2 linked regions of the Homo sapiens genome follow. The protein of the gene in region 2 interacts with the protein of the main gene of each other region in a pairwise test. Each region holds a gene or a part of one and is shown on either strand. Other genes may lie near its edges.

The links.
Region 1: the proteins of SGSM2 (region 2) and GDPD2 interact in a two-hybrid assay, tested with the Homo sapiens proteins (one large-scale study listed by BioGRID and IntAct).

The regions. Positions count from the first base shown.
Region 1 is NC_000023.11:70,422,132-70,426,113, reverse strand, and holds the start of GDPD2 (glycerophosphoinositol inositolphosphodiesterase GDPD2), read right to left. Parts: upstream 2,801-3,982; 5' UTR 2,732-2,800; intron 1,139-2,731; 5' UTR 1,130-1,138; coding exon 1,025-1,129; intron 761-1,024; coding exon 657-760; intron 352-656; coding exon 258-351; intron 63-257; coding exon 3-62; intron 1-2. UniProt on the Homo sapiens protein: Has glycerophosphoinositol inositolphosphodiesterase activity and specifically hydrolyzes glycerophosphoinositol, with no activity for other substrates such as glycerophosphoinositol 4-phosphate, glycerophosphocholine, glycerophosphoethanolamine, and glycerophosphoserine.
Region 2 is NC_000017.11:2,372,001-2,375,500, reverse strand, and holds part of SGSM2 (small G protein signaling modulator 2), read right to left. Parts: intron 3,312-3,500; coding exon 3,247-3,311; intron 3,159-3,246; coding exon 3,013-3,158; intron 2,549-3,012; coding exon 2,420-2,548; intron 2,171-2,419; coding exon 1,988-2,170; intron 10-1,987; coding exon 1-9.

The DNA.
Region 1 (3,982 bases), on a different chromosome or scaffold from region 2:
ACCTTGTGGAGGCTGTGCAGATGCAGGGGCTGTCTACAAAGCCGCAGGAGCAGGGCCAGGACCTAGAGGAAGAGAGCAGTGGGACTTATGGGGTGCCAAGAGGGGAGCAAGGTTACTGAGGTGGGCTTCCCAGGCTGGTACTTCCCTCCTACCCAAGAATTAGCCCCCTCCCTCAGTGGCCAGGATGAGAATAGGGAGCTAAAACTAAGCAGGAAGGAAGGCTGAGGTGGGGTTAGGCCAGCGGCCTCCGGACCCACCAATAGCAAGGATGCATATGTGACCAGTAGAGAGATGACCAGCAGGAATGCCAGGGACCAGTCCATCCAGTGTCCCCAGCGGCGGAAGAGGAATCTGTGGGAGGGGAGAGGGAGGTGTCCAAGTGGGGGAAGGGGTGTCAATAGTGGCCTGAGGGGAGGTGGGGTGGGTGGATCCAGGAAGACTAGAAGGGAGTGAGGAGAAAGCCCCTCGTGGCCAGGGGCTCCAAGGATTGAGGAGATTTTGTGGAGGGATTTTCTAAGGAGATTGGGTAGCAGCAGAGCTGGGTTTGAGCAGCTGGGCAGGGCTGGGGGATGACTGACAGTGGGCCACCCCCGGGTCCCAGGGTGGGGAGCAGGTTGACAGGTATGCTGGGGAAGCAGGGGGAATCCATGACACACTCATTGAAGTTGTGCAGGTCATTGAGAAGGACGAGCCCGATGTACAGCCAGCTCAGGGAAAGGAGGAAGGTGAGGAAGAGCAGGCCAAACCAGATACAGTCGCACTGCAAAGGGGCAGGAGAGAAACTCACAACCAATACCTACTTCAAACTCAGAGTCCCCAACGGGTGGCAGCTAAAGGGAGCTGCCTGCCCCGTGTTGGGCTGCTCTGCTCGGGGGGCAGCTCTTTCCATATTTGAGGGAGATTTTCTTCCTGGGAGAGAGAGCCCCTTCCCCCAAGCTGTCTATGAGCACAATTGGCCTCCTTATCCCCTCCAGTGAGCCTCTGCCTTCTGACTTCCAGCCTCCCCCCTCCATCCCTACTCCACCTTGCTGGTTTGCATCCTCTCTCTGGGGCATTTCCTCCAGTGGCAGCTATACAGGCAGTGGAGGCAGCGGGCCCAGACGGAGCAGCAGCCGGGGGACTCGGCCATGGTGAAGGCCTGGGGGAAGGGACACTCGACCATCAGGGACCCTGGCAGAGGGCAGATCCCAGTCTCCCTCCTAGTGTATCTGAGGAGCCCGGGGGAGAGGCAGAGGCCTGGGCCGCTGCTCAGCAACGGAGGTCACGGGGCAGGCCCAGAGTGCCAGAGTGGATGAGGCGAGCAGCCCCAGCTGCAAGCCTGGCAATGGGAGACAGTCTCCAGAGCCTTCGTTTCCCTTTAATCTTGTTACCTGGAGAGTCAGTGGGACACCCAAGAGGTCCAGCCTCTTTTCGGGCAGGATTCATATCCACTCTCTCCAGCTCCTCCCCATTTAACAGCACACACCTCTGGGGATGGAGTGCTTGCCCTGGGGGTAAGAACTCAAGAGAAACTGCCCAGGGTGGGACAAACTCAGTTCAGCAAGTTAAAGCAGGTTTGGCCAAGCTGGAGGCAACCCCATGTTGAATTGCTTTCCAGCCCAGGAAGCAGGAGTAACCTGAAGCAAAGGTTACAGTTCTGACCTGGGGCTAAGGAAGGCCCAGCTAGTTGGCCAGTTGCTATGGTTATAGAGATTATTCAGATCACAAATCCCTGAAAGATTCTCTGTGTCCACCTCTCAGGGGACAAAGGGCACTGCCAAAAAGAGAAAGACTTGAGGTGAACATGTTGCCTGGGTCACTCCCAGTCTTCTAAAGGAATCTTTGGATTTTCAAAATACAGAGCCTCCCCTCAAGTCCTGCCCTTTCCTGCCCAGTCATCCCCCAACCCCAACCAGAAGCCCAGACTCGCCTTTAGGAGCCCCACCCTCTAAGTTAGCTTTGGTGAAAGTACAACAAACGCAGGGCAAAGGTGTGTATGCGGGGTGTGGTTGTCTTGGGGCAGGGGACCCCTGTACCTTATGCTTCTGGGTTTGGCTGACTGAGCTGATCCCCAGACTTGGCTGGGTACGTGACTGATTCTACGCGAGACGGTATGTGATTTGTGTCAGCATTTGCACGCGACAGCACAACTGGCTGTCGGTACAATATGATTTTAGGTGACTTTGAGTATGTAAAGGAGCCCCTGGATACACCCAAAGTGTGTGAGCATGTGTGCGTGCGGGCTGAGGGACAGGACCTCTTGTCCTCAGAGCTCTCCCGAGGCTATGGAGTCTTAGAGGGGTGCACAGTGGGTGGGTCCGGTAAGCAGGAAGGTGTGGCTGCTTCTGAACTGCCCTCTTTATGCTGCCTTGGGAAAGGAGGGTTAGGGTAGGGGTGAGGAGCTGGAGCTGGGGGAAGGAAACCCCTCCCCTCTACGAGACCCTTCCCGGTAAAAAGCCAACCCAAAGGGAAGCCCTTGCCTCTGCCCATCTTGGAGCTGGTTTGATAGCCTGCTCTAAGCTCTTGCCTCCCCTGGGGTCCTACCCCTGCACCCCAGACACTGCCTTCCAGAGTCCCCTCCCTTCAGGAGCTGCCTGTAGGATGGGATCAGGGTCTGAGCAGCCTGAAAACCCCAAGTAGGGTTGCTGACAGGGGTGCCATTCAATCCCCCGGCCCAATCCCAGTGGGATGGAGCTGGTCTCTGCTCCACAGCTCCCACCTGTAGCCCCCCAGCCTTCCCGAACCCTCACACCTTTGCTCAGCGGCAGCTCCGCTCCGCTCTCCTCTCTGCACTGCTTCCCAGCTCCTCTCCGAGTGGTCTGCCTCCTCCCTTTTTCAGTCCTCGGTTCAGCCCTATGAGTCAAACAGGTGGCACTGTTGCCACCTACAGGAGGCTGTGTGGGTCCTCTCCCAAGGCCTGCAGCTGCTCTGTGGCCTGGGCACAGCCCGGGTGGGAAGATGGGAGGGAGGAAGCGGGAGGGAGAGCAAATCTGCTTCTTTACTCGCTGGCGGTCAGGGGGCTTGGGGTGAGGAATTCCTTTGTGCAGGCTTTCCCATCCCTCTGTCCCTCCTCCTGTTCCCCTCCCAGTCACTGCCGGGGCTTTGTCCTGGCTCAGGGAGGCGAGGGCTGAGGGCACAGGCTGGCGGGAAGCTGGTGTGTGTGGGGGGGGGAGGTGACCACACAACTTTGCAACTTGGCAGTGAGGAGAAGAGGCCCAGCCAGCCCACTGGAAAGGCGTGTGTGTGTGTGTGTGTGTGCGTGTGTGTAAGCCTAACATCAAGTCTCAAGCTCCCTGGAAATACAGCCTTGATTCATTAGGCTCCCTCCCCTATTGAGCTCCTACTTCTAATTCAGCAAGGTGCATGTATAAGAAGCTGCAGCCTGGCGCGGTGTCTTACACCTGTAACCCCAACACTTTGGGAGGCCGAGGCGGGTGGATCACCTGAGGTCAGGAGTTCAAGACCAGCCTGGCCAACATGGTGAAACCCTGTCTCTACAAAAAATACAAAAATTAGCCAGGCATGATGGTGTGCACCTACCAAAGACTAGGTAGTTGCATGGGACATCTCACAAGGCCAGGTTTAAAGCAAAGACAAGCCTTGGTCATTTGTCCCAGCTACTTGGGAGGCTGATGTGGGAGGATTGCTTGAGCCCAGGACGTCGAGGCTGCAGTGAGTTGAGATTGTGCTACTGTGCTCCAGCCTGGGCAACAGAAGCTGCAAGCTACTTCCTGAACTCTGGATAGCAAGTTGCCGTTTCTGGACCAGAGGTCCCCATGGGCCTTGTGGATCCTGGGTGACACTAGCAGTTCTCCCACCTTCCCTCATCACCCCAGACAGGAGATGCTCATTCAGGACTTGTGTCATTTCTGCTGCCTTGTCCCTAAGGCATATGAGTCTCTTTCCAAGAATCTTTTGAGGAGTGTAGAGTATATTGGGGTCACAGGCTTTTGGAAGATGAACACATAGAAAAGATGCTGTTACTATAGCATCAGCATCAGCA
Region 2 (3,500 bases):
GATAAACACCTGGGGGGTGAACACAGGGCGGCTCCACCTGCACTCCAGCACCTTCCCGCAGCCCACCGCCTCCTCGGGCCAGAAGGGAGCTGGAATGCAAAACTCTTCACACCCCCTCTCCCACCACAGCCTCCAACACTGTGGCCACGGGGCACCAAGCCAGCTTCTGACCCAGCCAGCCAGGCGGAGAGAAACAAGCCTCTGGCCAAACATGAAGACACGTCTTCAGCCCTGCTTGAAGGAACAGCCCCAGGTCTTCCTGTGGCTACTGAAGGGAAGTAGGGGAGCCAGGGGGCTGAACGCTCAATGGCCAGTTTGAACTCAGTCTCATTCTAGAAACGCCTGAAGTCATGAGACCGGGAGAATGGCCTTAGTGTTTTGGTGTGGCTGGGTGGAGAGAAGCCTAGAGGTTTTAGGAAAAACAAGTTTTGCCTTATTTTCAGTACTGAGTGTTCAGCAGGACAAGACAGGAACGTTCTGTAGCAAGCACCTAGTCAGTTCCATTAGCCCTCAGGCAAGGTGGGGAGATGTAGGAAGGAAAAGCAAACATTCTGCCTCCTAGATACAGTCCACCACCATGGACAAGGCACGAGGAAAAGAAGAGACACATACAGAGACTGTTTGGGATTTTTCTCTCTCTGTTTTCACCACGTAGGGAAAGCAATGCTAAAAGTAGTTTCTACTTTGGGCAGGAAGCATGAAGTGCTGGGTAAGGCCACGGTTCTGTGGCAATCTAATACGCCAGCGAGGAGCTACTGCTGTCCATGAGCTCAGCAGCTGGGCACTGGCACAGACAGATTTTTACAAAACCCAAAGCCAGAGAGAGGGAGAATGTGTTCCTGGATAGGGGATTAAGAACAAAGCACGTGGGAAATGACAATGTGCCTTGTTTGTTCTATTTCTTTTTTTTTATTTTATTTCTGAGGCAGGGTGTCTCACTCTATGGCCCAGGCTAGAGTACAGTGGTGGTATCACGGCTCACTGCAGCCTCAACCTCCATGGCTCAGGTGGTCCCCCCACCTCAGCCTCCCGAGAAGCTGGGACTACAGGCGCACCCCAACACATGCGGCAAAGGTTTGCATTTTTTGTAAAGACAGGGTTTCGCCATGTTACCCAGGCTGGTCTCAAACTCTTGAACTGAAGCAATCCTCCCACCTCTGCCTCCCAAAGTGTTGGAATTACAGGCATGAGCCATCACACCCAGCCAGTTATATTTAACTTACTTCAACTTACATTTTCTGTTAATGTTGGTAAGGATTTAGTAAAGTAACAAGAATACACATTATCTAAAGAGGCAATTTTAAAGAAAAATTAATAAAGCGTCCTTAAAATTGAAACTTATCAGTGTTGGTTGGGCCAGGCAGTCACAGTTTAGAACTTGCTGTTCAAAAGGCAGGAGTGATGCCAGAAAGAGCTACCCTCCCGTGCTCCGAACAAGCCTGCCATAGTCAGTTCTGTACAGTGACAGGCAACATCGCGGGGAGGAAGGATCTCGCCAGTCGACACCAATGGGGCTGCTCTACGGGCTCCCCTATTCTCAGGCCCACAGATCTCAGGAAGCCTCTGCAGTCAGAGGATATGGGTGGAGAGGGGAAACTGAGACCCAGAGACGGGAAGTGCTTGCCCAGAGACATTCAGCTTGTCAGTAGTGGATCTGGGACTAGAACCCAGCGCTGCCTGTTGCTAGCTTTGAGGTCTTTCTACAAGGAGGAGGGCTTCCCTAAATCCCAGTAAGTCCATCTTTCCCTATAGTTGGCTAAAACTGAGCACAATGCACTCTCTCACTTTATTCCTACAATACCCAGAGAAGTAGGCAGCAGAGGCACAGTTAGCCATTTCCAGTTGGAGAAAATGAGACACAGGCACCTTAGGCCTTTCTCGCAGGGCCCCACCAGTTCCCAGAGGTCAGGCTGGTGCTCAGGACCACTGTGCATAAAACGCGGGTGGCCCCCGAGACCCCCAACCCTCCAGGTCCCGTCTGGCTCACATCGTTGCTGATGGTGGAGTCTCGGTGGATGAGGCGCTGCACGTGGCTGTCGATGCTGCTGCCTGAGGAGAACTTGGTGCGTGTGGCTGGGTGGGCCTCCCGCTCCCGCTGCCTCACCACCACCTCGCAGGCCTTCCACTCTGCCAACACCTGCTGGTACCTTGCTGCCACCACTGCGTCCACCTGTACTCAGACCACACCACGACCATGGGGGAAGCGTGCACCAGGCCCTCCCCTTCAGGAGCTGGGCCTGCACTGGACCTTGGGTCCTGAGTCTCAGACTCAAGACGGGCCTCAGGGTAAGGACGGTGGAGCTGCCCTGCCATGCTTCTTTCCGGCTGGGAAGGGGCTGAGGCTTCCAAGGTCCCCTCCCTGGCGTCCCCTGGCCCAGCTCCCCATCTCATCAGCCCCATGGGAACAGGCTCCCCTCACCTGCTCCATCTCCTTCTTGCTCATGCCGAACTTGTAGTGGCCAAGCAGAAAGGGCCAGACGTCCTTGCGGATCTCGTGCTCTATGCCTCCGTAGTAAACTTGCCGCAGCAGCTCCAGCTCTTTGTAGTTCTGAGGGACCCGGGGAGTCAAGACTGTGCAGCCTCCACAGTCACCGTGGCCCAGCTGGGTGAGCCCCATCCCACGGAGAATGGGCTGGGGCGGGGCCTGTAGTGACTGCTGAAGCCCAGGCAAGGCCTGCTTTGGGGTGGCCACGTCCTCCCGTGCCCCAGCTCACAGTGGGATGAGATCTCGTTCTGCTCTCCTTCCTTAAGGGGCAGGAAATGGCGCCCGGAGAGAGGCAAAGCTTTGTCCAGGGTCACAGGGCGATGTGGAGGCAGGACGGCTTCCCAGTCCAGCCCCCTTCCCGTGTCAGCCCCAGGCCCAGCTGCAAGAGATTCTGCCGGGACCCTGGTCACTCCGTGGCATCGGCCCTGGCCTGTCAACCGCACCCACTGGCACATTTTACCCTGAAGCCCTCACTCCTGCCCGCCCCAGCCCCTCGACCTGTGGCCCTGGAACCCCAGGGTTGGCACCTTTTTGTCCTTCTGATACTTGCTCCACACGTCCTTGGTGAGGCCCGCGGAGGCCCCCGGGGGCCGGTCAGGTGGGATAACGCTATGGTGCACCAGCGCCGACAGGTGGGTCCGCACCGTGGACAGGTGGCGGCAGTGTGCCAGCCCTGCGGTGGGCAGCGGTGGGCAGCAGGAGGCTGGGACCCAGGGCCGCCCGCCCCCAGCCCGCCACAGCCCGGCGCGCCCCACACTCACAGCCGTAGAAGGCCCGGGACACGATCTGCCTCTTCATACTCTCACACAGTAGCCTGAGCGGCAACCTGTGGCAACAACCGGGCTCAGCAGGGAGGGGCTGCGGCCCCTCTGGTGGGAGGAGAGAGAGAAGGGAGGAGGCTCTGTCCTGGGGGGCAGGTAAGGCACTGGGGAGGGTGCGAGGAGGAGGAGCCGCAGCCCAGCAGCCGTCAGTGGGTGCCCTGTCCCTGCCTGCCACCTGGACAGAGTGCTGTGGG